Linked DNA regions of Homo sapiens. The protein of the gene in region 2 purifies or fractionates together with the protein of the main gene of each other region. This does not show direct contact. Each region holds a gene or a part of one and is shown on either strand. Other genes may lie near its edges.

Region 1 (7,604 bases), on a different chromosome or scaffold from region 2:
CACTGTGGAAAACAATGACCCATATATCTAATCTGGGTGTGTTTAATATTAAAGGTTCTCAAAAGGTATGTACCACTCTAATTTTCTAAAAGCTGTTAATCCAGTTAGCCCTTAGCCCTTTGCCTGGTAGTAGGTCACTTTAAAACTGAAATCACACTTATGCTCTCATTCAAATATTGTAACCAAGAATAAGCAGCAAGAATTTGGTATGTCAGGACAAAGTATACAGATGGTCCCCACCTTTCGATGGTTCAACTTATAATTTCTTGACTTTACAATGCTGCAAAAGTGACATGCATTTGGTAGCAACTGTACTGAGTGCCCATATAACCATTCTGTTTTTCACTTTCAGTGAAGTATTCATGAATTACATGAGGTATTTTGATACTTTATTGTAAAAGATGCTGTTAGATGATTTTGCCCAAATTTGGCTAATGTAAGTATTGTGAGCACGTTTAAGGTAGGTTAGGCTAAGCTACAATGTTTGGTAGGTACATTAAATGCATTTTTGACTTACAGTATTTTCGACTTACAATGAGTTTATCAGCACATAACCCCTTCATAAGCTGAGGAGCATCTGTATATACTAAGCTTTTAATTATGTTTCTGAATGTACAAATCTGCAATATATATGGATTTCATACACTAATGTGATCTTTCAAGTCCTTAAGTACAGTATATACAAATATTATAATTAATCACGATCTAAATTGATAGTTTGGATTCTACCTGCATACAAATTATGGCCAGGAAGGGAAGCATGGGTCATGCACAATCAGCTATCAGAGTGGAACTCGGCAGCTCACCACAGCACCCAATTCTTTTACTTTATTTATATGTGGTGCCTTTTCTTCAGATTAAATCCAACTTTCCTCCCCTGGCCTCTTATTGTTACACTGCAGACACCAACCTTATTTCTTCTGGCATAAAATCTTGTGGCTGCCTGAACATAACATTGTAAATGTTATGTATAGCAAAGTATTGGAAAATTCAATGAAAAGGATCACTTAAAAAGTCATGTAATAGAGAAATCTTGCTTTTTAAACTTTAAGCCTAATTACTTAGCTCAGCAGTGACTTGGCAGAGATCCAAAAGATTCTTCAGCTCTTCCCTGCTTCTCTGAGGCAAGTTTCCAGTAACCCCTGCCTTCCCCCATTAATACATATGTATCCAAAGTGCAAAAAGAAGGAATTTGTTAAAAAAAAAAAAAAAATCAGACTCTACTTTCCCATTGCAATGTTAAGTATATACATAAAACATTTCTACCAGCTTTCACTTTTTAGATGGGCTACTTTTTCAGCTGAGTGGTAGGACACCAAAATGGGAAGGAGAAGTCAATGTCATAGAGTATAAATAGCTGTGGCCAAAAACAATATTGCAGAAGAGCCAACAGGAGAAAGGCTCCCCAAAATGCAGCAGGAGTGACTTAATTCCACGTCTTCATAGAGACCTCAGGGAAAACCACTATCAAGAAACAAAAGAAGGGTGGAAGCAACCAGCACTCACATATGGTCTTACAGTGTTTTCTTGGGTTTCTGAAACACATACACATATATTTAAAGTCTCAGATAGTATGGCAATGAAAAGGAAACTGTTCTTTATGTATGTCATATAGAAAACGTTACCCAATAGGAACACGGTCTTTTCTTAGATATGCTGAAAACCACTCATGAATACCTAGGCGGATTTTTAGTTATACTTAACTTACTTGAGATAGAATTTGCAATTACATTACACGGCAAATCTAAATCTAAACCTCACCTTAAACGTTGGAATGTGTTCCTATCATGATTCATTACACACAATCCAAAGGACCAGTAATTTCCCACCACACTAGTTAAAACGTTTTAGATCAGTGGGCTAAATTGCATGGGGCACACAATTCACTTTCTAAATGTTTGCTAGACACTTCAAGATTGTCCTCAAGTGTTCGAAGTCAGTAAGTTTACCAATATTCTGTAGCGGAACACACACACGCACTCGTTAGGCATCAGCAGCATTTACAAAACGCAGGCAATCATAAAGTTATATAAGAAAAGCAGTCTCGCCTCTGAGGAATTAGTTCAGGCATACAAGAATCCAGGAAATCGCATATCCTCCATGCGAGGCTGGGTCACAAGAACTAGGTAAAGAAACAAAGCAAAGTGCACTGGGAAACGAGGGCAGTAACAGCTGAAAAGATGCAGGCAACGCCACCAGCGGCATCTTCAAGCATTCCTTCTGAAGGGGAGTGTTTCTATGTTGTTTCTAATGAGCCACTGCTGACCTGAGTAACGGTACAAGCTGAAACCAACACAACCAGAAACGAAATCCACCATGTGGTAGACGAGACTAGGGGAGCAGCACGAATGGTCCACAGGCTAGGGGTCCAGAAGCTGTCATACCATGGGACTCGCGCACACCCTGGAGCTGCCACCTGCTTTCTATTTCCTCGGGGAGGGCCGGTGACGCGTGAACCCGAGAGGCACCAAAGGCAGGAATCCTGAAATCTGTGATTTCTAAACCCCGAGCTAAAAAAAGGTCCGTAGGGCCCGTCTCCCGCAGCTGGGCGACTCTTCCCCACGCGGCGCGCGGCCCGCGAGGTGGAAGGGTGAGAACTTCTAGGGGGCCAAACGAGGACCAGGAGACAAGTGGGGAGCGGGAAGTGCCTGCCTGGTCCGAATGCAGGGAGTCCGAGGTCGCGGTGCCACCTCCCTGTGAGGGTAGGCTGGGGGCGGGGCCGCGCGGAGCCCAACAGCCAGGGGCCAAGCAGGGTAATCCCCCCGGGGCGAGGGCGGGCACGGGAGAAGAGGGACGCCCCGGCCGCTACCTGCTGCTGGATTTTCCCGTCCTCCGTGACGACCCAGTGCGTGGTGGCGAAGGCCCCTCGTGCCGCCACACTCAGCAAGGCGGAAAGGCTGAGGAGCCAGCCTGGGCCGGAGCAAGGCGGCAGCTCGTACCGGCCACGAACCCCTACTGCCGCCGCCATCTTGCCCCCCCGGCCGGGCCGCTCACACCGGAAGCGGAAGCTAGTCTCCGGCGCCCGCCATCTTGAAGAGGTCGGCCCTGGAGGAGGAGCAGGAGGAGGAGCCGAGAGGGCGTAGCTCGCTGACTACCAAGTTTCCTCCACCTCGGTTTTGGCGGCCAGGAAGCGCGACCTTCGGCTACTCTCCCAGCTTGGCTTCAGGGATGGAGACCGCTTTTTAGTTATTGTTTTTCTGTGGGTGATACGATCTCGGAGCGTGGGAACCGGAGGGAGACAAAAGCAGTGGCTTAGGTGGCGCTTAAGCAGAAGTGAAAGGACTCAATTTTATTGTTTTTTAAATCTTTGTTTTTTCGTTTTATTTCTGGTAGATAGTTGGGGAACAAAAGGTGTGCTTTCGAACCACCTATGGGAAGAGAGGTGTTGCTTTTATTCTTAAAGTCTCACAATAGTGGAAGCTTCAGAATGGAGACGGTTGTTAGTTTAGGGCACCGCTGTCCAGTAGCACTATAATGCGAGCCACGTGTGGAATGTAAAATATAGAGGGAAGTAACCCTACTAGTACATTTTATTTAACTCAAAGTACACAAAATATTAATTCAATGTGGTCTGTACAAATCATTGAGATAGTTTAGTTTTTTTTTTTTTAACTAAGTCTTGGAAATCGGCATGTTACACTGACAGCTTATCTAGTCATATTTCAGGGGCTTAATACCCGCATGTGGCTAACGTACTGGTCAGCACAGGTCTAAGCTAGAGGTCTAGGTCTGGAGACCAGAAACATTGGCATCACCTGGGAGCTTTTTAGACCTGCACATTCTCGGCTCTTCTCCCTCTCCCCCGCAACCTGCTGAATCAGACTACATTTTAACAATAGCCTCAGGTGACTGGTATACATATTAAAGTTTGAGAACCACTTTCTTCTAGTGAACCAACAGGCAGGCAGGCAGGCGTCAAGCTTGGCTGCCAGCTTCTTGCTAGATATGTCATTTTAGGTCTTTCAAGATTGCCCTCTGTGTGTGTTATTTAAGGTTGGTATGCTTTTGGTTTTCTCCTTGGGAAAAGAAGGATGAGAATATTGTTTAACCACTTCTCTACACAAGTGTATGCAGGAGAGCAGTTGCTAAGTGTTTAAACACCACGCTATAGAAATGTAGAAACAACCACAGCATTGGTGTTTTTTTTTTCTTCATTCCAGGAACAGCTTTTCTTAAAGGCCTGAAGACTGAACATTCATTTCATTAAAAATATATGGCTTATTTGCTTTTTGCCTGGTACTCTGATAGTCTCTGGGTATGGAAATGTAACCATTGGGCAGTGTGCAATATAGTGAGATATTATTGGCAGGTTAACAATTAAAATACAGGATAATGGGGGTGTATGAATGCATATGTACAGGAGAGAGCAACCAACCAGGTGAAAAAAAGGTTTGGAGCTCAGGTGCTGGTTCAGGCAGAATAATAAGTGAAAAGGTGAAGTTGGCCGGGCGCGGTGGCTCACGCCTGTAATCCCAGCACTTTGGGAGGCCGAGGTGGATGGATCACTGAGGTCAGGAGTTCAAGACTGGCCTGGCCAAGATGGTGAAACCCCGCCTCTACTAAAAATACAAAAATCAGCCGGGCATGGTGGCGGGCACCTGTAATTCCAGCTACTTGGGAGGCTGAGGCAGAGAATTGCTTGAACACGGGAGGCGGGGATTGCAGTGAGCCGAGATCACACCACTGCACTCCAGCCTAAGTGACAGAGCGAGAATCCGTCTCAAGAAACGAAAAGGTGAAGTCAGTGGCATGTTTTAAGAGTTTCTTGGAGTTTAGACATAGGCAATAGGGAGTGTTTCAGAATTTTAAAATAGAGAAGTGGCAAATGATGGAATCCCTTTTGTCTCAGCATCTTATTTTTGGGGCATAGAGGTCAACCCTATTTCTTGTGTATAAAGCTGACATCATCATCATCTAACATTTCTTGAGTGTTTAATACGTACTGGGTCCTGTACATGCATAGTTCCTATTAATCGTCACAACTTACCAAGCTCTGGCTAGTTAAGTAAGTTGGCCAAGATCATATTGCTAAGTGGTAGAGCTCAGGTTTGGACTCAGATCCACCTGACTCTAGATCTGAGAGCCTGAGAATGAATGAATGTTAGTGAGGAATTTGAGAAAGGCCCCAGCATCACATATTTTGCTATCAGCAATTTCTTTGACCTTCACAAGTTAACCTCTAAAGGGGTGGAATTATAGCTTCTATAGCTTTATTATACCACCTATTTTCTGTAGATGATAACTCTTATCTTTTGGGATCCTGTATTAGTTTTCTAATGCTGTGTAACAATTGCCACAAACTTAGCTTAACACATTATCTGACAGTTTCCTTGGGGCAAAAGTCTTCTGCTGTGGTGTGACTGAGTTCTCTGCTCAGTGTCACAAGGCTCATATCAAGGCTGCAATCTCATCTGAGGCTTGGGGTTCCTCAGTCAAGCTCATTCTTCAAGTCCTTGGCAGAATTCAATTTATTGCCAATGTAGGACTGAGGGCTCCATTTTCTTACTGGCTGCTGATTGTGGCCATTAACATTGAGGCTACCCACAGTTTTCTGCCATGTGGCTCTCACAATGGCAGTTATTCCTTGAAGGCAAGCAGAATATTTCCACTGCTGAAATCTCTTGAATTCCTCTATCTCTAAGCCTAGACTTAAAGGGCTCATGTGAGTTGATAAGGTCTATCTGAATAATATCCCTTTTTATTCAACTGATTAGTAACTTTAATGCCATCTGCAAAAATTTCGTTTGCCATATAACATTATCTTAGTCCATTTTGTGTTGTTATAACAGAATACCTAAAGCTGGGCAATTCATAAAGAAAAGAGGTTTAATTGGCTTATGATTCTGGTGGCTGAAAAGTCCAAGATTGGGCAGCCGCATCTGGTAAGGGCCTCACGCTGCTTCCACTTAGGGAGGAAAGCAGAAGGGGAGTGGGTGTGCATAGAGATCACATGTTGAGAGAAGCAGCAAGAGAGACAAATCAAGAAAGCCAAACTCTTTTAACAACCCACACTCGAGAACTAATTCATTCCTGAGAGAGCAAGAACTCACCTCCCCCCCCACCACCGTGAGGGCATTAATCTGTTCATGACAGATCCACCCCCATGACCCAGAAACCTTCCACTAGGCCCCATCTCCCAACACTGCCACATTGGGTACCAAATTTCAACATGAGTTTTGGCGGCCCTAACCACATCCAAACCTATGATCACAGGAGTGATATCGTATTCATGTTTTACCCACATAGTCAAGTTAGGAAATTTCCCCCTTTTCTACTCTATTAAGGTGAAATGGACAAAATTGTATATATTTAGTGTACAACATGATGTTTTAATATACGTAGGGGAGATTTTATGCGGGCAAGGACCATTGGGTATCATCTTAGAATTTTGCCTACCACAGATCTTGACTGCCAAGTACCATTCTTCTAGTCTTTCACTGAACTGTTTTAAGTATCACAGACTAATTTAGACATACTTTTGCTCCTGTTCCCTGCCTAAAATCCTTTCCTCATGCTGCTTTCTCAAATCTATTTAAGATACAGTTGAAATCCTAGCCTGCAAAAATGTCTGTCAACTTGTTTGCCACCTCTGAATTCTGTCAGTAATATGACAATACTATGCTGCTTTGTGATATTATTTTATAAACTTTGAACAGCCAAACTCTTGAGTGGTTCTTGCAATAGTTCTTAGTTCTAATCTGGTGAGGCAGAACACTCAAACAGTAAGTCAGGCAAAGCAAATTTTTTACAAATAGGCAGCAAAGATACACAGAAATGGAGGATCCATGGTTAGCTGATCCCATGGCTCAGGAAAGCTGCTTAGGGCAGATGGAGCCTCATCTGCACATACCCCATGTTGCAGCACAGATGAGGGACTCCAAAAACACTTTGGGTTTTATACCCTGGGTGTAACTGAGATTGCTGAGTACAAGTGTTGCAGAACATCCTGTTTTAGGAAAAATGAGGACGCAGCCCAGGTTGTTCTGGAAGCTTCCTCCTTATCTCAGGATGTTGCATTCTCAGTACATTCTGCCTGAAAATTGCAAGCAAGAGGGGGAAGAGCTGGCATGGCCAAGGCCATCCAGGGACCTGTCATCTTGCAATTCTATAATTACCTACACTAGCAACTGAGGGCAGGAAGCATTTCCTATACTAACATTTTTATCTTCCTTGGAACTTCTGTGCAAAATAGTTTGTTGACTCAGTTTTTTAGCTCCCCCAAATGTAGCATTCCCATTTTGTGTGAATAAAACAAAAAACTTAAATAAAATTGTTCCTACTAATTTTCTACATCCAGATCACTTGTCACCGTTCTTTTATTCTGTTGTTCTAAGATCTGATGTTTCTTTTTTCATTATACTTTTCCTCTTCGATGAAATTTATAGAAATACAGGATGGCAGTTGACAAAATTGCTGATATCTCAAATTGTGATTCAATTGTTAGTTCAACGAATGATAGGCAAGTCCCTAACTGCATGTAATTTAGTCTTTCAACATATTTTAGCAAATAGGTCTTTTATTTACTATTACTATAAATCATAGAATTCTTGAAGTTATGAATTAGAATTCATTCTGTTGATAGAATGAATGATCTTTCTGGATTA
Region 2 (7,369 bases):
AATGCTGGGATTACAGGCGTGAGCCACCGCACCCGGCTGTAGAATTTCTTTCCTTTTCATGGCTGAATCATATTCCATTGTCTGGGCATCTGGGTAGACCACATTTTGTTCATTCATTCATTCATCCATCCATCTGGTTTTTTTTTTTTTTTTTTGAGACGGAGTTTCGCTCTTGCTGCCCGGGCTGGAGTGCAATGGTGCGATCTCGGCTTACTGCAACCTCTGCCTCCCAGGTTCAAGCGATTCTCCTGCCTCAGCCTCCCAAATAGCTGGGACTACAGGCACGCTCCACCACGCCCAGCTAATTTTGTATTTTTAGTAGAGATGGGGTTTCTTCATGTTGGTCAGGCTGGTCTCGAACTCCTGACCTCAGGTGAACTGCCCACCTTGGCCTCCCAAAGTGCTGGGATTACAGGTGTGAGCCACCGTGTCCTTTTTTTTTTTTTTTTTTTTTTTTAAATAGAGACAAGGTCTCACTATGTTGCCCAGGCTGGTCTTGAACTCCTGGGCTCAAGCAATTCTCCTGCCTCAGCCTGCTAAAGTGCTGGGATTGCAGGAATGAGCCCTGGTGCCCCAGCCTCATGCATCTCTTGACCTCGTGATCTGCCCGCCTCGGCCTCTCAAAGTGCTGGGATTACAGGCGTGAGCCAGAGCGCCCAGCCCCTGCTTTCAGTTCTTTTGGGTATATACCCAGAAGTGGAATTGCTGGATCATATGGTAGTTCTAGTTTTAATTTTCTGAGGAAGTGTCATATTGGTCTCCATGGTGACTGCACCATTTTACGTTCTCGCCAACAGTGCACAAGCGGTCAAGCTTATTCTTTTATTGTTTATTTATTTGGGACAAAGTCTTGCTCTGTCGCCCAGACTGGAGTGCAATGGTGCCATCACAGCTCACTGCAGCCTCCTGAATTCTATGTTTCCCAGGCTGGTCTCAAACTGCTGGACTCAAGTGATCTTCCTACCTCAGCCTCCCAAAGTGCTGGGATTTTTTTTTTTTTTTTTTTTTTTTTTTTTTTTTTTTTTGAGACAGAGTCTCACTCTGTCGCCCAGACTGGAGAGCAGTGGCGTGATCTCGGCTTACTGCAACCTCAGCCTCCTGGGTTCAAGCAACTCCCTGCCTCAGCCTCCCGAGTAGCTGGGATTACAGGCACCCACCACCACGCCCAGCTAATTTTTATATTTTTTAGTAGAGACAGGGTTTCACCATCTTGGCCAGGATGGTCTCGAACTCCTGACTTCAGGTGATCAGCCGGCCTTGGCCTCCCAAAGTGCTGGGATTACAGGTGTGAGCCACTGCGCCCAGCCAGTGCTGGGATATTATAGGCCTGACCCACTGCGCCTGGCCTAGTCTACCTTTTTTTTTTTTTTTTTTTTTTTTTTTGAGATGGAGTCTTGCTCTGTCACCAGGCTGGAGTGCAGTGGCGTGATCTTGGCTCACTGCAACCTCTGCCTTCCGGGTTCAAGTGATTCTCCTGCCTCAGCCTCCTGAGTAGTTGGGGCTACAGGCGTGAGCCACCGCGCCCGGCCCCCCCCCTTTTTTTTTTTTTTTTTTTTGATAGTCTCATTCTGTTGCTCAGGCTGGAGGGCAGTAATGTGATCTCAGCTCACTGCAACCTCCACCTTCCAGGCTCAAGTGATGCTCTCACCTCAGCCTTCCGAGTAGATGGGACTACAGGTGCATGCTGCCACACCAAGCTAATTTTTTTTTTCTTTTTTTGAGATGGAGTCTCACTCTGTCTCCCAGGCTGGAGTGCAGTGGCTTGATCTCAGTTCACTGCAACCTCCGTCTCCCAGGCTCAAGAGATTATCCTGCCTCAGCCTCCCAAGTAGCTAGGATTACAGGCACGTGCCACCACACCCGGCTAATTTTTGTACTTTTAGTAGAGACAGGGTTTCACCATGTTGGCCAGGCTGGTCTCAAACTCCTGACCTCAAGTAATCCTCCCACCTCAGCCTCCCAAAGTGCTGGAATTACAGGTGTGAGCCACCGCGCCCGGCTACCAAGCTAATTTTTAAAATTTGTTTGGAGAGATGGGGTTTCACCATGTTGTTCCAAGACCCCAGTGCTTTTCGCCTCCATTAGCAACTACAGGAACATCTTCGTTCATCTCTGTCTCCCCACTTGTGAGATGTTCTCTTTAAGATAAACTCCCGGCAGTGAAGGGTGTGTGCATTTTAAAAGGTCTCAGATATGGCCAAATCATCCCCATTGCAACCTGTGATGGGGACTCTTTCCCATGCCCCTGCCACCACTGGGGAGCCCTTCTTGTTCATCTCACCAGCTGGAGCCCCCCTCTCTCAGTTTATCTTTGTCTCACACTCACCTGACCTTGCAGGGCTCGGCTCCTTGCTCCACGCCCTGTCCATGTGGCTTTTGCATCCTGAGGCATGAGTTCCTCTGCTCTGTCTGCCTGCTTTTCTCTATCAACCTGTCACCTTCCCTTCGGGCTCACTTCCTACCTCTCTGAGGCTCTGTCCGTCTCTGTCTCACTTTCCCTCTCGTCTCTGGTTTCCCTTCTCTGTCTCTCTGTTGCGGTGTCTCTCTCCTGGCTGGGTTTGATGTCTGTTTCTCCCTGACCACCTGCTCTGTCACTCATGCTAGTTTGGGTTCCCTACCCTGGTGCCTATTCTGGGATATACATGGGTATGTGGGCAGCCCTGGGCTGGCACATGCAGCCTTGGAGGCTCTGGCGTCAGGGACCCCCATGAGGGCTACCAGTAAGAACCAGAGAGAGCGACGGTTCCTGGCTTCAGCCCCAAACCCTGGCTGTCAATATCAGCCTTGGTGGGAGCCCTAGGCTTCCCTCTCCCTCTCAAACCCTCCCCAGGCAGAAGGCAACTTCCTCCCTTCTTCCGTCTCCCCAGGGGGCTCCCATACCTGCTCAGACCAGCTTGTCACCAAGTCTGCCTCATCCTTAAGTGGATCGCGATACCCCAGAAGAGCAGCTCCTGCCTGAATAGGGCTAGGAGGGGAAAAAAAAGAGGAAGAGGCTGTGTTCCTGAGCCACCCGGCCAGGAAGGGCCTGGCTGGGCCGGACGCCCCACCCTTGCCAACAGGCAGGCCCGCCCCGTCTCCGCCTCGCCGCCAACAAGGAGGACCAGCACCAGGCCTGGGAACTGCTGACCTGCCCGCCCACCTTCCCACCCAGACCCCGCCTTCCCGGGCCAGCGGGACATGACAGACCTGTGAGTCACTCAAGCCTGGGGCAAGGAGGGGCTGGTGCCTGAGTGAGACCCCGAGCTTCGCTCGCCAGGCCCGTCGCTCAGCTCCCGGTCTGGGTCCCCAGTCAGCAGTTGCTGGGGAAGGCGCAGGAGCTGGAAGTCATGCCTGATGCCACGAGACCGGGCACCCCAAGGGCGTGAGTCTTCTGTCCCTGTTGTTGGGTTCTGAGTCCCAGTGTGGCTGCACACTTCTGAGTTAGGGGTGTTTGATGCAAGCGCTCTGGAGACCCAAAGAGAGGGACAGTCCACACATGATCTGGCCACAGTCGTGAAGTCAAGGGAGGACTGAGGATCTGCCCCAGAGAGGAGGAGACCCAGGGAGCTGGCAGTCCAACGTCCTGGGGGTCCTGCAGTAATGCTGTTGGGACAAATGAGGTGCTCGGACAGGGTCTGTGAGCAGGAGGTGGGGCTGAATCCACTCAGCTTCTCATGGGATGGCTGTAGCTAATGGATTCGACGTGGTAATAGAAGGCTGGACAAATTTTAAAAAATCAATAAATTATGGGCTGGGCGTGGTGGCTCATGCCTGTAATCCCAGCACTTTGGGAGGCTGAGGCGGGTGGATACGAGGTCAGGCGTTCAAGACCAGCCTGGCCAACATAATGAAACCCGTTTCTACTAAAAATACAAAAAATTAGCCCGGCGTGGTGGTGGGCGCCTGTAATCCCAGCTACTCAGGAGGCTGAGGCAGGAGAATTGCTTGAGCCTGGAAGGCGGAGCTTGCAGTGAGCCGAGATCACACCACTGCACTCGCACTCCAGCCCGGGCGACAGTGCGAGACTCCATCTCAAAAAAAAAAATCAATAAATTATGGTTTAAAAATAAAAAACAGGCCAGGTAGGATGACTCACACTTTGGGAGGAGAGGCAGACAGATCACCTGAGGCCGGGAGTTCGAGACCAGCTTGACCAACATGAAGAAACCCAGCCTCTACTAAAAATACAAAAATTAGCCAGGTGTGGTGGCTTGCGCCTGTAATCCCAGCTACTCAGGAGGCTGAGACAGAAGAATCGCTTGAACCTGGGAGGCAGAGGTTGCAATGAGCTGAGATCTCGTCACTGCACTCCAGCCTGGGCAACAGAGCAAGACTCTGTCTCAAAAATAAAAATAAATAAAAATAAAAATAAAAAACTGCCGGGTGCGGTGGCCCATGCCTGTAATCCTAGCACTTTGGGAGGCTGAGGTGGGTGGACTGCCTGAGCTCAGGAGTTCGAGACCAACCTGGGCAACATGGTGAAACCCCATCTCTACTAAAATACAAAAAAAAAAAAAAATTAGCCGGGCGTGGCGACCTGCGCCTGTAGTCCCAGCTACTCAGGAGGCTGAGGCAGGAGAATAGCTTGAACCCGGGAGGCGGAGGTTGCAGTGAGCCGAGATTGTGCCACTGCACTCCAGTCTGGCGACAGAGCGAGACTCCTAAAAAAATAATAATAAATAAATAAATATAAAATAAAAATAAAAAACTGGCTGCTTAATGCATAGGGGGCTTTCTTTCCGGGTCATGAATATGTTTCAGAACTAGAGGTAGTAGCTGACATTGTGACTGTATCAGATGGTATAAAATACTGTTTCTTGTATTACATATGATACACAATATGTTTGTATATATTGCTGTATATATTGTATATTTTGCCATACAGTAGATTATACATTGCTACATACACATAGTATCATGTAGTACTGTAACTATGTCAAATTGTATATGTGGCTGGGCGGGGTGGCTCACGGCTGTCATCCCAACACTTTGGGAGGCCGAGGCGGGTGGATCAGAGTGTGATGGCGGGCGCCTGTGGTCCCAGCTACTCGGGAGGCTGAGGCAGGAGAATCGCTTGAGTCTGGGAGATCGAGGCTGCAGTGAGCCATGATCCCATCACTGCACTCCAGCCTGGGTCTGGCTGGACCCTGTGTCAAACAAAAAACAGAAACACTAGAGAGACAAAAGGCGAGCGCAGGAGGCTGCCAGGAAGCGGGAGCCCCACGGGGTGACGGCCACTTCCCGCCGCCCCGGGGCTGGCCTCGCTGCCGTCAAGCGGCCCGTGCGCGCTTTGCGACAGTCGGTCGGGCTGGGCACCGGCGCAGGTTCGCTTTCCGGCGGTTGCACCGGGCCGGGGTGCCAGCGCCCGCCTTCCCGTTTCCTCCCGTTCCGCAGCGCGCCCACGGCCTGTGACCCCGGCGACCGCTCCCCAGTGACGAGAGAGCGGGGCCGGGCGCTGCTCCGGCCTGACCTGCGAAGGGACCTCGGTCCAGTCCCCTGTTGCGCCGCGCCCCCGTCCGTCCGTGCGCGGGCCAGTCAGGGGCCAGTGTCTCGAGCGGTCGAGGTCGCAGACCTAGAGGCGCCCCACAGGCCGGCCCGGGGCGCTGGGAGCGCCGGCCGCGGGCCGGGTGGGGATGCCTCTGCACGTGAAGTGGCCGTTCCCCGCGGTGCCGCCGCTCACCTGGACCCTGGCCAGCAGCGTCGTCATGGGCTTGGTGGGCACCTACAGCTGCTTCTGGACCAGTGAGTGGGCCCAGGCCGAGGCAGGCCCGCCCGGGTACCCATGCCCGGCCGGAGGTGGGACTTAGGGTGGGGGACGCCGCGGCCCCGACCTAGCGGGCGAGCCCGGAGCGCCTGACTTCTCCTTCCCCGCCAGAGTACATGAACCACCTGACCGTGCACAACAGGGAGGTGCTGTACGAGCTCATCGAGAAGCGAGGCCCGGCCACGCCCCTCATCACCGTGTCCAATCACCAGTCCTGCATGGACGACCCTCATCTCTGGGGTACCCGGGCCAGTGTGCTGGGCAGGGGGAGGAAAGGCGAGGATTCGGGACGGGCCCAGCCTCGTCAGAACAAACCCCTTCTCGCTGCCTTTTCATGGAGCCCTGGCACTCCGGTTTCCGGGCGTTCTGCCCCAGGGCTGAGACTTGGATTTGTGGCTCCTGCAGCATCCCTGAGGGAGCATGATTTGGAGAGGGCCTTGGGCATGGAGCAGGACCAAGGAACGGCCACAGGGCATATCTTACAGCTCCTTTAACGTCAGGCCTCCAGAACCCTCTGTTCTCTAAACCATCCAGGGCCCCACAGTCTTGGGAAAAATTTGGGGGTTGGACATAGGATATCCTGTGAGGAAGTTCTGGGCCAGGGACTGGAAGCCCAGTGTCCTGGCTTCAGGTTTGCCCCTGGCTGGGCGTGTACCGTTCAGCCCTATTTGGGAGCCTGGTTGCCACACCTAGAGGTTCCTGCTCTGCTGACTTCACAGGAAGTTGCTTGGCTCTGGTAACCAGATGGCCGGGTGGAGGGGTGCCTGGGGCTTCCACTCCTGAACAGAGAGCTTAACTGTCCTAGAGTTCATGGGGAGCCACCTAGCCACACTGGAGCCCTTCAGAGCTCACCCTGGCTGCTGGGTGGAGAAAGGCCTATAGATGTCACAGGTGGATCCTGGGAGGCCAGGAAGGAGGACTTGGAGCCATCCACTAGCCTAGACTGGGCTGGTTGCAGTGACAGTACAGGGAGAAGTATAGAAGAATGGGCATTGTCCAAGTATGTTGGGGAGGTAGGCAGTCCAGGTGCAGTGATTAGTAAGATGTGGAGGGTGGGGGAGAGGGAGGAGCCAGGGAGAACTGAATGATCTGGCCTAAGGGTCTGAAAGATGCCACTTTGGGCTGTAGGGAAATGGTAGTGCTGCTGTCCCTCATTCCCTGAGATGGGGTGAAGGAAGGGCACTCCCTGGGGATATGGGAAGTTGGGGCATGAAGCCTTTCCTGTCCTCTAGGGATCCTGAAACTCCGCCACATCTGGAACCTGAAGTTGATGCGTTGGTGAGGAGGAATGGGCCCCTCGAAGTGGGCCGGGCCGGCCCCACCTGCCTCTGCCCAGATTTGCCCTCCTCCTGCTCTGCCCAGGAGGTGGCGTCCAGCAGTCCAGGCAGGGCATGGGGTGGGGCCCCGCAGGCCCTCCCCTGTGCCTCCCTTCTGCATGCTGATGCTGGGGGCAGGGTGGTGGAGCGGGGTGCAGGGGGCAGGACTAATTGCATCTGTCCCTGCTTAGGACCCCTGCAGCTGCAGACATCTGCTTCACCAAGGAGCTACACTCCCACTTCTTCAGCTTGGGCAAGTGTGTGCCTGTGTGCCGAGGTGAGCTGCTCCTCCAGCGAGTGCAGGGAGGCA
Region 3 (7,023 bases), on a different chromosome or scaffold from region 2:
TTAACCGCAAAGAAGAGGCATAGAAGTGGCACAATGTGATGACATGCATTCAAAGGGGGGATTTTAGGGAAGAGGACGCATTGGAAGCTGCAAAGGAGAGACCCATCTCTACCTGTAGTACCGGAGTAATGAAGGCTGTGAGAGAAACATCAGCCACCACTTGCAGTCTGCAGTGGAAATATGTCCTCAGAGGTTATGGTCAGGTTTCACTTAGGGTAAGAAAGAGAAGGGATGTTCCCCTTCCTGTGTCCATGTGATCTCATTGTTCAATTCCCACCTATGAGTGAGAATATGCGATGTTTGGTTTTTTGTTCTTGCGGTAGTTTACTGAGAATGATATATCCCTTGGGGAAAATATTGCCTAAGTATGCAGGAAAAAAAAAAATATATATATATATATAAAACATTAATAAGAGAGATTAGATTGATTTATAGCTATGCTATAAATGAAATGAGATAGATTTTATATTGTCTTATAACCTTATATGGTAAATGTTCATATTACAAAGTTAAATAAAAGTTTCAGTGGATCCAATTTGTTGTTTAAAAAAAAAAAAAAGAGAAGGGAATGTTCATAGAGATGGCTAGGTTATAGGGGACTTTGTGGATGGCTGACAATGACTGGGCTGCAGGCAAAGACTAATTAGGAGGTCAAGGCTGCAGCCCAGCCCAGATGAATGTCAATCATTCACATAACAAAACATGCCACGCCAGGCCCTGGGCTGGGTCTGGTTACCAAGGGGTGAGTGAGAAAGTCCCACCTGGGCTTAGGTTTCTACTGTATAGTGAATGGTAAAGGAGCTCACACTTTGGAGGAGGGGGCGGGCCCAGGAGGAGACACAGATATTAAATAATTATAGCTCCATGTGGTAACTAACAGAGGTAAGCATAAATGCTTTTAAGAATAACTAGGATGGGCTGGGCGTGGTGGCTCACACCTGTAATCCCACCACTTTGGGAGGCCAAGGCTAGGCGATCACTTGAGGTCACGAGTTCAAGTCCAGCCTGGCCAACATGGTGAAACCCCATCTCTACAAAAAATACAAAAATTAGCCGGGTGTGGTCGTGGGTCCGTAATCCCAGCTACTCAGGAGGCTGAGGCAGGAGAATCACTTGAAGCCGGATGAGGAGGTTGCAGTGAGCCAAGATCGCGTCATTGCGCTCCAGCCTGGGTGACAAGAGTGAAACTCCATCTCAAAAAAAAAAAGAATAACTAGGACCACCTAATTTAGACTAAGGCATGTTAAGGAAGACTAAGGTATGTCAGGGAAGGCTTCTTGGAAGTAGGAGTGAGCCAGGTTACAGAAAGATAGCTAAGCCAGAGAGAAGAATATGTTTAAAGGTACGGGGTCACTGGAAACTTGGATAACTTAGCATATTGCAAATTCCATAATATTGCCAGAGTAAGAGAATGTATTTTGAGAGGGGCATAAAAGAAAGCTGGAGATGTCACTAGGGGATGAATGCTGTAATACTTCATATGCTGAAGGAGTTTAGACTGTATAATGAATTTGCTGGGGAGTGACAAAATCACTTTTTGCGAGAGAGTCACATAGCTTGTGTTGTCTGCACGTGGCAACTAGTAGTCTGTGAAACCTTTCATTGCCATTTTCACATCACATGACCTGGCAGTGGGAATAAGACATCAGAATCAGCCACTGTTAAGCTACTAAATCAGTCGGTGAGGTGGGGGAGGGAGAAGACATCAGCAGAAAGCCGGGAAGAGAGCAAGAACATTCACATTCCACTCCACCAACAATACGGCAGTTGGTAAAAATCAGCAGGAAACGTGAAAAAAATCAGAACCCTTGTACACTGCTAGTGAGATTGTAAAATAGGGCAGCCACTTTGGACAACAGTCTGGCAGTTCATCAAACAAAGAGAGTTAGCATACCATACAAGTCTTCTCCCAGGTGTATTACCCAAGAGAAATGAAAACATGTCTACCTAAAAACATGTACACAAATATGTATAGCAACATTATTCATAATAGCCAAAAAGTAGAAACAACCCAAATGTCTGTCAACAAATGGATAAACAAAATGGAATGTTACTTGACCATAGAAAGGAATGAAGTACTGATACATGCTACAACATGAACGAACCTTGTGTGCAGTATACATAGGAAGTAATTGCACTAAGTGAAAGAACCCAGTTATAAAAGACCACATATTGTATGATTCCATTCATATGAAATGTCCATAAAAGAGAACAGAGAAAGTAGACTGGTGGTTGCCCAGGGCTCAGGCAAGTGGGAGGATAGGGAAGTGATTAGCTAGAGTACAGAGGTTTTTTTTTTGAGGTGATGAAAATGCTCTAAAATTGACTGTGATAATGGTTGCAAATATCTGTAAATACTACTAGGTACTTTTGAACTGTACACTTTAAATGGGTGAACTGTATGTATGGTAGGTGAATTATATAAAAGTTCTTAAAAAATACAAAAGTCAGAATAAAAATAATGAAATTATAATGCCGCTAGGTTTTAGAATTCTGCAACTCAGCTTCAGTGGCCTGGTAGAGGATGCAGATTATGATGGCTGAGGCCAAAGGGCAGCTAGAAGCCCTGTCAGGAGATAAGCAAGAACTCAGCTGCAACAACAGAATGAAGGTCTGCTTCCCTTTCTCATAGGCGCTTCTACAAGTTGGCAATGAGACAGTCTGTATGGCACAGATGCTACACTTAACTTCATATATAAATAATTGTACCTATAATTTGTGCGGCTATTATGCACCAGTTAAGTATAATAGGTTTTTAAGATAGTGACTACGAGTATGAATTCTGGTTTCAAACTTGGGCTGGAATTCCTGCTCTACCACTTTTGGGCTATATGATACTGGAAGAGTTGATTTAAACTTTGGGCCTGTATTCTTATCTATAAAATGAGTGTTCTAAAACTTAATGAGATAATGCATTTAGCAGAATACCCAACATACAGTAAATGTTCAATAAACATTTGCTATTATTATAATTGGTATTTCATCTTCCCAGAAACTCTAGGCATCATTTTTGACCCCACTAAACCTCAGATAATTTATATGATTTACCCAAAGTTATACAGCTAGAAAGAAACTGAATTGGAACATGAACCTAGTTCTTGGTACCTACAAAACACATGTGTGTCAGCTGCACAAAGTTATACCTGACACTGGTCAGAAACAGACTCTAGATTGTGCTTTTTTTGAGTTGCCCAGTGCACTGCTCCAGATATTCTTGATTGTATTCGTGGAGAGAAGACAGGATCATAGAAGACACAGAAGCTAATGGAATTCTTCAAAGATAACTGATCTCACATCTTTGGCCTTTATACTTTTGTATGCTTAATCGTCTCTGTTAACTGGCCACAGGAAAAAGTACCTTCTCCCACAGTTTATCCTCAGAGCATTTCTGTGATAACGCAATCTCAGAACTATAGGGCTAGGACAAACCTTCTAGATCATCCATACTCCTTTCTTCATTTTATATGACTAGCCCTATGATCCACATAGAGTAGGCACATAATAAGTCTTCTGTTGATAATGACAACATGCCAGGGCAAATCCAACACCAGGATTTAAAAATCTGTGAGGATAGTCATACCTTTTAAGACTGGAGGACAGCTGCCAAATATCATCAGGATCCATTCCTGTAGGATCTTTCCTGTGGGCCACGAGAAAGATGCTCTTCTCCTTATATGAGGTATAAATGGTCAGAATCCCCATCATCACAAAATAGGTTCAAATAAAGTTAAGGGGAAAATACCCAAACATAAAAGAGAAGTAACACAAATTGACAAGCAACAGATATAAAAACTTTCATAATGATAGTCCTAAAGAAGACAGCTTTGTCTTGCTGCCAAAACACTGAAAATTTAGCTATTTCATTTTCATCCTTATGTTTATATACCAAGAGAAGCAAGGCTCTCTCTGGTTAATTCTGCAAACACCTCAGAAAGGAAGAAAAGAAAAAGATACAGAGCATAAACTAGCTCTCATCTTTATGTTCAAAGACAACATGTATAATAAGATACCTAGTTTGTCAAGACTTTGTTATAATAGTGCTTATTTCTTTATAAAAAACAACGAATAGTCCCAGTGGACTTGACCATGTTCAACTGATTTTAAGGGTTATTAAGAGAAGAAAAGTGACCCAAATAGTTTACTATAAGAGAGTATGTCAAATAGTACTACGATTACTTCCTATATGCATATAGACTTATTATTATATTGTTTTTGACAGTATTAAGTACCATAGTTAATAAGCACTTATAGTTTGCCAAAAACTGGCATAAGAGCTTTGTGTATACTGTGCCATTTAAATTTCATAAACAAGGCTGGGCACGATGGCTCACACCTTTAATACCAGCACTCTGGGAGGCCGAGGCAGGTGGATTGCTTGAGACCTGGAGTTTGAAACCAGCCTGGCCAACAAGGAACAATGGGAGACCCCATTTCTACTAAAAATACAAAAATTAAGGCTAGGCGTGGTGGCTCACACCTGTAATCCCAGCACTTTGGGAGGCTGAGGTGGGCAGATCACTTGAGGTCAGGAGTTCGAGATGAGCCTGGCCAACATGGTGAAACCCCATGTCTCTACCAAAAATACAAAAATTAGCTGGGCATGGTGGTACATGCCTGTAGTCCTGCTACTCAGGAGGCTGAGGCATGAGAATGGCTTGAACCCAGGAAGCAGAGGTTGCAGGGTTGCAGTGAGCCGAGATCGTGCCACTGTGCTCCAGCCTGTGTGACACAGCAAGACTCTGTCTCAAAAAAAAAAAAAAACAAAAAAAACCCACAAAAACCAAAAAAAAATTAGCTGGATGTAGTGGTGCAGGCCCGTAATCCCAGCTACTTGTGTGGCTGAGGCAGGAGAATCACTTGAACCTGGGAGGCAGAGGCTATAGTGAGGCAAGATCGTGCCACTGCACTCCAGCCTGGGCAACAGAGTGAGACCCTGTATCAAAAAATAAAAATAAAATAAATAAAATAAAAATAAATTTCATGAACAGTGCTCGCTTCGGCAGCACATATACTAAAATTAGAACGATACAGAGGTTAGCATGGCCCTAGCACAAGGATGACAGGCAAATTCATGAAGCATTCCATTAAAGAAGAGTTAAAAAATAGATAAATTTCATGAACAGGAAAGGCAGGAAAATATAGTACAAAGTATATGGACTTTAGAGTAGAGATAATCCTAGATTTAAATCTTGGCCTTTAATCAGTATGATTGTAACAAATAACTTCCTTCCCCAAGTCTTAGTATCCTTACCTTTAAAATTGGGATAATACTGATGTTTTAGAATTATCATGAGATTTAGAGATGAAGGATATATGCAGTCTAGGATACAGAAGACTTTTTTTTTTGAGACAGGGTCTCACTCTGTCACCCAGGCTAGAGTACAGTGGCATGATCTCAGCTCACTGCAGCCTCAACATCCCAGGCTCAAGCAATCCTCCCATCTCAGCTTCCTCAGTAGCTGGGATTATAGGTGTGTGCCACTACACCCAGCTAATTTATTTTTTATTTTATCTAATTAATTTATTTATTTTGAGACAGAGTCTTGCTCTATCGCCCAGGCTGGAGTGCAGTAGCAGATCTCGGCTCACTGTGACTTCCGCCCCCTGGATTCAAGTGATTCTTGTGCCTCAGCCTCCCAACTATCTGGGACTACAGGCATGCGCCACCATGCCCAGCTAATTTTTGTATTTTTAGTAGTGACAGATTTCTCCAAGTTGCTCAGGCTGGCCTTGAACTCTTGGGCTCAAGTGATTCGCCCGCCTTGGCCTCTCAAAGTGTTGGGATTACAGGCATGAGCCACGATGCCCAGCAACAGAAGACATTTATAATGGTAGTCCCTACATTATAAATAAAACTGACATGACAAAAATAAGACCTTGTTTTATTAAACAAATATAACCAAACAAATGAATTACCATCAAGGTAGTTCTCTTGGGAGGCCAGATATTTGTAATAATGTTGCTATCATTTTCAAATCTCTTTGGAATTCCCCTGGGAACTGTCTCTAGAACCTATGGAATATTATTCTTCTGAACTGCCTTAATAGTGAAAAATTCATACTGGGATGATTAATCTGATTACTGAAAGGAGTCAAGGATCACCTGGTGCCACTTCTGGGGGAAATGTGGGGCAATCTGGATAATACAATTTTTGACTAGGATCTGCTTTATCAGAGGTTTGCTAACTGCCTCTGAAGATAAATCCCCAACATGAAGTTTTAAAACATATTTCAGGTTGGCTGGGCACAGTGGCTTATGCCTGTAATCCCAGCACTTTGGGAGGATTGCTTGGGCCCAGGAGTTTTGAGACCAGCCTAGGCAACGTAGTAGGACCTTGTCTCTGTAAAAAATTTAAAAATTAGGCAGACATGGTGGCATGTGCCCGTCTACTCAGGAGGTTGAGGTGGGAGAATTGCTCGAGCCAGGAGGCTGACGCTGCAGTGAGTCATGATCACACCACTGTACTTCAGCCTGGGTGACACGGTAAGACCCTGTCTCAAAAAAAAGAAAACAAAACAAAATTTAGGTAGTGGTAACATTGTTTAAAAAAGTAAACTACCAACCAAAATTACCTATTTTAATAGTGAAGTATAATTAAGTTCTTTATATTCAACTTCTTGAGAAAAAAAATCACGCTGGGTAGGCAACGACCATGATCTTACATTTATCATAAAAAAGAGGGGAAAGGAAATGATTATGTATCAAATACAATATAAAATCTCTCATTTAATCTTTATGATAATTCTGAATGCTACCCATATTTATAAATGAGTGGTATTCAAATCATCTCAAAAATAAGTAAATTTTCATTAGCACAAGATCACAGATACCTTGGATTTCAAACCCATATTCTCTAGCTCCAGAATAAGTTCTTAATTCCACTGTAATACAAGCCACACTTGTATCTCATGCTCAGTACTTTCCAGTTCAGCTCCTCAGCTTCAAGTAAACTTAATACAGATCTGAGTCTCCAAAATCAGATCCTTTCCTAATATCCTAGAATGAGTGGCTTGAAGCAGCCAC
Region 4 (7,023 bases), on a different chromosome or scaffold from region 2:
TGCTCCCTCAGCAAAGCTCTGACCCAAACGGTGCCCCTGGGGCACAAGAGGGTGAGTGCTGGGCAGCAGGAACAGGGTAGGGCTAGAGGAACCTGGTCACTGGCTGGGTAACAGGCTCTGGGGCGCCCCACAAAATGTCTCTAAGCTGCTGCACTGGGCTTCCACACAAGCACGGTCCTCTGTCTGGCAAAACCCACTCCAACACCCACCCCATGCGCTCGAGAGCCCTGTGTGCCTTCCAGTGTGAGGAGAGGGAGTGCAGGCTGAGAGGACGGGAGGGGCCTCGCACCAGAGCCACAGGGCGGTACCCCACATGGGGGCCAAGAGGGAAGTCACAGCAGAGGACCCAACTCAGGGGTCACAGGACTTTCCCCATCAGCTTCAGCCTCATAGCCACTATGAGCAGAACCAGCAGGACCCCAGGGCACCCCCACCCTGGGGGGCCTACAATCAGCAGCTGGGCCCCCACGGGCCCCAAGACCACCAGCACCCCCCGCCCCCAGCCCAGAGCCTGAACATCTGGCTTATTTCACAGAGGGAAGCTGAGGCTGCAGGGGATCCCCTCCCAGAGATCACAGAGCCAGGGAGGGGCAGGACTCCCCACCACTCCCAGGGCAACTACCATGGCAGAGATGGGAGGCCCCCTTCCTAACACTGGGCACCGGGCTGAGAGCTGCAAGCCCTGGCCAGCCCCCGGCCCAGCCCCACTCGCGGGCACACATGGGCTCAGGGGAGCTGCATCGGCACCAGCCTCTGGTGCCGGTTATGCACCCCAGGACCCACCACTGCCCACTGGGCCTCTGGGGTGTCCAAGTATCCCCACCCTTCAGTCTCTCCGGGAGCTTCCTCCACACCAGGCCAGCCTGGTGCCCACCCCAGCCCAGGCAGCTCCCCTCCACCCACACCCTCCAGGAAGCTCTGCACTGCCTCTGTCCAGCCCACTGTTCTGGGGAAGGAAAGGAGAACCCTGAAGACCAGACAGCCATCCCTGTAGCACCTAGCCCTCCCCCTGCCACCGTGGGGCCAGCCCAGGGCTGTGTGCTGGAGCTCCTCAAGCACCAGCCAAAGACAGGCAGGGGCACTACCCTTGCCCTGCCCTTGGCCCAGTAGAGGGGCTGGGGAGAGGCAGGGCCAAGGCCTCTGGCCCGGCAGAGTGCTGAGGCAGCAGACACTGGATCTCCTGGCTGGGGAGCAGGGCCCAGAGGGGAGGGGGCCGCGCAGGCCTGCCCTCACCACCCACACACAGCAGCCTCCCCAGGAGGTCAAGTGCCCTTGGAGAGCCAGCCCCCGCCTCAGCATCCCTGGGCCCCTGCACAGGCTCCTGCGTGGTCTCAAAGTGTCCTTGCTTAGTGGGCCTGGGGCCAGTCATGGGCAGAGGCACAGAGGGGAGTGGGGCCCTTCAAGGTCACTGGGCCTAGTGTAGGGCAACATTCCCCCTGCCCCCTGTACGCCAGATCTAGCCTCCCACAGCATACAGCAGCACTGGGCCTGCCACCTGGGACGGCCGCAAGCCTTTGTTCCTGCCCCAAGCCCCCTCCTCACCCCACCCCACCCAGGCCTGACCTTGCGGATGCGGCCACTTCGCGTGCCGGCGAATACCACAGTGCGGCCCCGATAGTCATAGGCAGCCACGGCGGTCAGGCCATCATCCTTGTCCACGAACAGGGGCGTCCCCTCAATGGTGACTGTGCCCCCCAGGGGCTGGTTGAAGTCCTGCCCGCAGAAGTCGTCATCGATCTGCAGGGGCTGTGGGAAGGGGCAGGGTGAGAGCCACTCCCCGGGCACCTTCTCCCGGAGGACTGGGCCTCCCTGGGCAGGGCTGGGAGTGCAGTTGTCTTTCTAGAGAGGTTGGGGGTAGCCCCCAGAGGAGAGGTGCAGACAGAGAGGGTTTAAGACAGGAGGGAGCAGATCACACCTGAAAGGCAGAGGGCGGGCTCCCAGCTAAGAGCACGAGAAAGCAATCAATAGCTTGAGGTTCCGGAGCAGCTGGGGGCCAGTGTGGAGGGGGCGCTGCTCCACCGCCAGGCCTAAGGAGAGGGCAGGGCAGGCAGGGAAGGGATGTGGGGAGAAGTGGGGCAGATGGTCCTTGTCTGCAGAGGGTTCATTGGCAGGGGCCAGGCTGCTCAGGAGGAAGGAGCAGGGGAGGCTGGGCCAGGGCTAGGCCACATGGAATGAACAGGTGGGAGGGGGCAGTGGGGACTGTCCCCAGGGATGAAAGAGCAGGCCCCAGCCTTGGGGCAGGGCACAAAGAGAGAGTGTGGTGGGGCTTCACCCAGGCTCTGCCCCTACAAGCCTCAGTGTCTCCATCTGTATGGTGCAGAGAAAACACGTTCCTTGAAAAGCCAAGGGGAGGGTGGACAACCGCATCTGCCAAGCACACATGGGCCCTGCCTCACACAGGCAGTGAGCGTGAGACGGAAGGACTGAGGGGCCCTTGCAGTCCCACTCTGCCCTGAGGACAAAACCAGCAACACCCTCAGGTCAGACATGGGAGACTACAGCCAGAGAGGGCGAGGCCTTCCCCTGCGATGGCCAGCGACCCCCAGCAGCAAGCCCAGAAGGCCTGGCCTCGGGGGTCCCAGGTCTGGGCCGAGTCCCAGCCCCTTCACTTTCCACCCTAAGCAAGGCCCGTGCCCTCTGAGCCTGCCCAGGAGTGTGAACAAGACACTCCCTGAAAGGCAGCGAGATAGAGGCCCCACCCCAGCTGTGCCTTCTGATGGGTGCTGGGGGCTGTGGCTCCCTGCAGTCAGGGTCACTTTCTCTGCAAGTTGTTAACTGTGGCCTGCACCAGGACACCATCAGCTCCCATTGCTGGGCAAAAGCAGAGGCCCAGCGGGCAGGTGCCACCAGGGTCATGTGGGGGACACAAGCGCTCCATGGAAATGGTGTCTGGGCTCACCTGATAGGCTCTGGCACCAGCCTCTCACTTGCTGTGTGACCCAGGGCAAGTTACCCCACCTCTCTGATCCTATAACCTCATTTGTAGGATGGGGACAAGATGGAGCAGGCAAGCACCAGGTGTAGGACCAGGCATGTGGCTGGCACTCTGTCCAGTGTCCCACAGGGGCTGTGGACTATGCCAGCAGGGCCTCGTCACCCCATCTTCTGAGGCACAAGACAGCATCATGGCTGGGAGCAGCCTTTGGGGCTAGCACCCTGGGTCCAAACCCACTCTCTGGGGGATGGAAAAGGGCAGCCCCACCTAGCTGAGCCATGGGGATGGCCAAGCCAAAAGCCAGGCCAGGCACACAGCAGGCACCACTGGGCGTGCATCTGACACCGATGCCGTCGTCCCTGGAGGGGATGGGGCCGCGGGAGGAGGGGCGCCCCTGCCCAACTCACCGAGTTGATGCAGCCCAGCTCCTTGTTGAGCAGCCACGGCAGGGAGAGCTTGCCCTCACCACGGTAGCAGGACTGGATGCGCTCCTTAATCTTCTCCTTGATGGCCCTGAGCGTGAACAGGCACAGTGCTGACTCCTTTGGTGGCTTCACGCGGTTCTTCTGGCCCTGGGCGAACACAGTGAACAGCACGTCCTCGTCCTCAGCCAGGCCCAGCTGGTGGGCCAGGGCACGGCCGGGCCGGCTCAGGTAGGCATCCTGCACCAGGCGGTACTCCACACCCGCCTGCTCGCAGCCAATGGGGAACTCAACGTACGAGTAGAATTTGGGGTCGTCCACACAGAGCCGCACGATCTTGGACGTGAAGAAGTGCTCGCCGGCGGCATCAGGCGAGGTCAGCTGTGTGTCTAGCTGCAGCGTGAGGTAGTAGACAAACTGCTCGCTGCGGAAGCTGTACACATAGTAGATGTCAAAGGCCGGGAACTTGGACAGCGTGTCCGAAGGGATCTTGAGCTGTGATGACACAAACTCATCCTGGTACACGAAGCCGAACATGTCGGCATCCTCCTCGTTGGCCATGAGCCGACGGCTGGACAGTGTGGGGAAGTACTCGGACTTGCCATCGATGGGTGTGCCCACGAAGAGCTTGGCCTGGCCCTGGCCCGGTGGCCCGGCAATGAGCACGCCCGCCATGCTGCCTGCCTCCTGCACGCTGGACAGGTAGTGCTCCTTACGGTGGTGTGGCTCACCCAGTTTGAAGAGATCGTCCAGACGCAGGAACTGGCAGATGCCCTGGGAGGCGCTGCCACAGGCCAGCAGGCGGTTAGCGGCATAGTCCAGCAGCAGCAGCTTGTTGACGTTGTCAGTACTGCCCAGGCCGTGGGGGCAGGACTGCACGCTGGGCGGCGGGTAGCACTTCTCGTTGTCCTCCACAGGGCCCGTGACGTGGGCCCGCAGCAGTGTCAGGTTCCCCGACAGCTTATAGATGCGGTTCACTGCGCCCACATACACCTCGCCTGTCTGCTCATGCACCACTAGGTGGGTGAGGCCCCAGTCGCTGGCCGAGAAGGTGCGGAAGGGGGGCTGTGAACCCCCGCCTGCCCTGGGCAAGCCTGCCTCAGCCCACATGCCCGGCAGCAGCAGCAGCAACAGCAGCAGCAGCAGGAGCACCTGCAGGCTCCGCGGTGGCAGCGGCATGGCAGGCTGGGGCCTTGGGCCTCGGTGCTCTGGTCCTGCTGGGGTGAGCATCATGGTGCCAGGAGCTTCAGCCCTGGGGAAGGGGCAGAAGAGGGCATGTGAATGCAGGCATGGCCCATCCCATGATATTATGATCTCCCAGTGTGAGCCCTTCCAGTGCTGGGCGTGCCCACTGCACCTCCAGGAGGCAGAACCTGACCCACCAGGAGGAGCCAGGGGCAAACTGGGCACCTCCCTGGCCTGAGGCCCTATAAGCTGTGGGGTGCACCAGGTATCCCCAGGACACCTGGCAAGAGGTCACTCCGTTGGCACCTGTGCCCTGCCATCACTGGCGGAGGCCAGGAACAGGAAGGCAGGTGACAAGGGCCTGAGGTGTGGAATGGGACCCCAGCTGACACCAACATCTGACACCAACCTGGAGAGCAGCCTTCACCCAGAGCCTCCCTATGCACTGGGGAGCAGGACCCTCCCCACAGCTCTGTACTCCCAGGGTGGGCACCAGCTCCCTGCCTGAGGCTGGTGGGGACATACTCCACCACCGTCCCCTACAGAAGCTTGACATAGATGGGCTTTAGTGCTCACTCCCACCTCCACAGCCCTGCCTCTCCCCCGAACACGCCCTGACAGCCCACAGCAGAGGCACCACGGAGGACATGGAGGCCCAGGCCACACAGGCAGCAGTTCTCACTGTGGATAGGTGGCAGCCTGGGCTGCTCTCGGTGGGACCCCAAGCCCCATGCTGGATAAACCTTGAGACCTGCAGTCCAGAAGCCAGGCAATGTGTCCCACCCACATCCCCACCCCAGCCGACGGGTGCCCCGCCACACGGCCCCTTCCCAGGCTCCCTGGCCCACCAGCCCTGACTCTCAGCACTCTATCCAAGCCACCAGTCCTGCTCCCAGCCTCACACCCAACTCCAAGGAAAGAGGAATTCCTCCACAGGGAAGGCTGGCAGGTGCTCCCTGCACTCCACCCCTCCACAGTGACCCCTTCCCAGCCTCAGCACCCCATACCCACCCAGACCTGTGTGGCCCCCTCCTGCCTTGCTCCACATCGGGCCCTCACTTCCTGGTCACACTCACTACCAAGGTCCATTGACTCCACCCCAAACTCCACAAAATGCCCACCCCTCCTTCCTGGATTGCCAGGGTACTCGGCTCCCTCCACCCACAACCACCTACAGCCAGGTCCCTATGCAGAGGCTAAGGCCACTCTTCTGACCTGCACACGAGGTCAGCGCTGCCCAGATCCTGGCGGGAGTCCCCATATCCTGTCCTGGCCTCCACTGCCTCTGGAAAAGTCTCACCACACCCTGCCTAGCAACTGGCAGCCAAGCACTGGGCTAAATCTAGACCCTGTTACTCTGTAGGCAGATGACTCTGATGGGGACACTCCCTTTTCCTAGCCTCAGTTTCCCCATTTGCAAAAGGGGCATGAAAGCTCTTTTCTCATGGATGAAAGAGGAAAGGGCACACCTGCCCACAAGGCATAGTCAGCAGTGCCACCCCCTTGGTTGTCAGTAGGGCCTGCTGCCCTGGATGTGCCTGATGTGCTGGGGCCTCTCACCCACTCCTGGCTGGAGCCGGCTACAGCAAGGCTGAGTCCTGAGTCTTGAGTTCAAGCCTCAGCCAGCCAGTTTGCACAGACCATCCCAGACACCCCTTGTATGGTCTGGCCCCATTTTACAGATGGGGAAGCTGAGGCCTGAAGATGGATGCCTTCTCCAAGTCTACCAGGGAGCTGGGCACAGTCCCATCAGCCTCTGTGCCTGGTGCCCACATGCAGTGTGGGGCTGCCTGCCCCTCCCCCAGGCCTCTGTGCCCCTGTCTCCACTCCCCGCCCTGCTCAGTCACCCTGTTCTCATCTGCAGCACAGGACTCGTGAAGGGTCTCTATTACTTATTGCTCCCATTCTCCCGGCCAGAATGGCTGCCCTGTGAGAGCAGGGCCTGGCTCTGGGTGGTTGCCACTGCATCCCCAAGCCAAGCCAGGGACCCAGGAAGACTCAATAAATCCCCGTGAGTGAGCGAATGAATGAAGGGTATGCGGAGGGCCAGCCAGGTCTGGGTGCGGCAGCCCCCCATGCTTCTTCACTCCTGTTTCACTCCCCACACACTCCCTGCCCAGTGTGTGCACAGCACACACCCACTGCTCAGGTGGGGAAACCGAGGCTCTCAGAAGCAAAGAGCTTTGGCTGGAATCCCAGAGCAGGAACTGCAGGGTGCTCCTAGCAGGCTGCCAGCTGCCTTTGCCGGACAGCGCCCCAAGAACAGCAGGGGAGGAGTCCCCACTCCCGCCCCCGCCTCAGAGCTCAAGGAAGACCCGGGAGCCAGAAAACAGGCTCCTCACAGTGGCAGTGGGGCCGGGGCTGGGAGCTGAGCACATGTGAACTCCAAAGAAAACATGAATCACTCACCGTTTATCAGTTCAAAGCAGGCCTGCAATTACCAGGGGCTGGGCTCTCCCCTCCTCTGGGATAATTATACAC

Evidence for each region.
Region 1: the proteins of DNASE1L1 (region 2) and TTC17 purify together in Homo sapiens (co-immunoprecipitation; 2 studies listed by BioGRID and IntAct, with this or other methods). This does not show direct contact.
Region 3: the proteins of DNASE1L1 (region 2) and SPCS2 purify together in Homo sapiens (affinity purification with mass spectrometry; 4 studies listed by BioGRID and IntAct, with this or other methods). This does not show direct contact.
Region 4: the proteins of DNASE1L1 (region 2) and PLXNA1 purify together in Homo sapiens (co-immunoprecipitation; 2 studies listed by BioGRID and IntAct, with this or other methods). This does not show direct contact.

What each region holds. Positions count from the first base shown.
Region 1 is NC_000011.10:43,354,319-43,361,922, reverse strand, and holds the start of TTC17 (tetratricopeptide repeat protein 17 isoform 1 precursor), read right to left. Parts: upstream 3,004-7,604; 5' UTR 2,969-3,003; coding exon 2,810-2,968; intron 1-2,809. UniProt on the Homo sapiens protein: Plays a role in primary ciliogenesis by modulating actin polymerization.
Region 2 is NC_000023.11:154,406,232-154,413,600, forward strand, and holds the start of DNASE1L1 (deoxyribonuclease-1-like 1 precursor), read right to left. Parts: upstream 3,024-7,369; 5' UTR 2,881-3,023; exon of another isoform or gene 2,327-2,880; intron 1-2,326. Other genes in the region: tafazzin, read left to right, coding at 5,613-5,775, 5,855-5,983, 6,976-7,021, 7,251-7,336.
Region 3 is NC_000011.10:74,966,257-74,973,279, reverse strand, and holds part of SPCS2 (signal peptidase complex subunit 2), read right to left. Parts: intron 3,716-7,023; coding exon 3,581-3,715; intron 1-3,580. UniProt on the Homo sapiens protein: Component of the signal peptidase complex (SPC) which catalyzes the cleavage of N-terminal signal sequences from nascent proteins as they are translocated into the lumen of the endoplasmic reticulum.
Region 4 is NC_000003.12:126,986,107-126,993,129, reverse strand, and holds part of PLXNA1 (plexin-A1 precursor), read right to left. Parts: intron 4,610-7,023; 5' UTR 4,537-4,609; coding exon 3,343-4,536; intron 1,747-3,342; coding exon 1,564-1,746; intron 1-1,563. UniProt on the Homo sapiens protein: Coreceptor for SEMA3A, SEMA3C, SEMA3F and SEMA6D. Necessary for signaling by class 3 semaphorins and subsequent remodeling of the cytoskeleton. Plays a role in axon guidance, invasive growth and cell migration.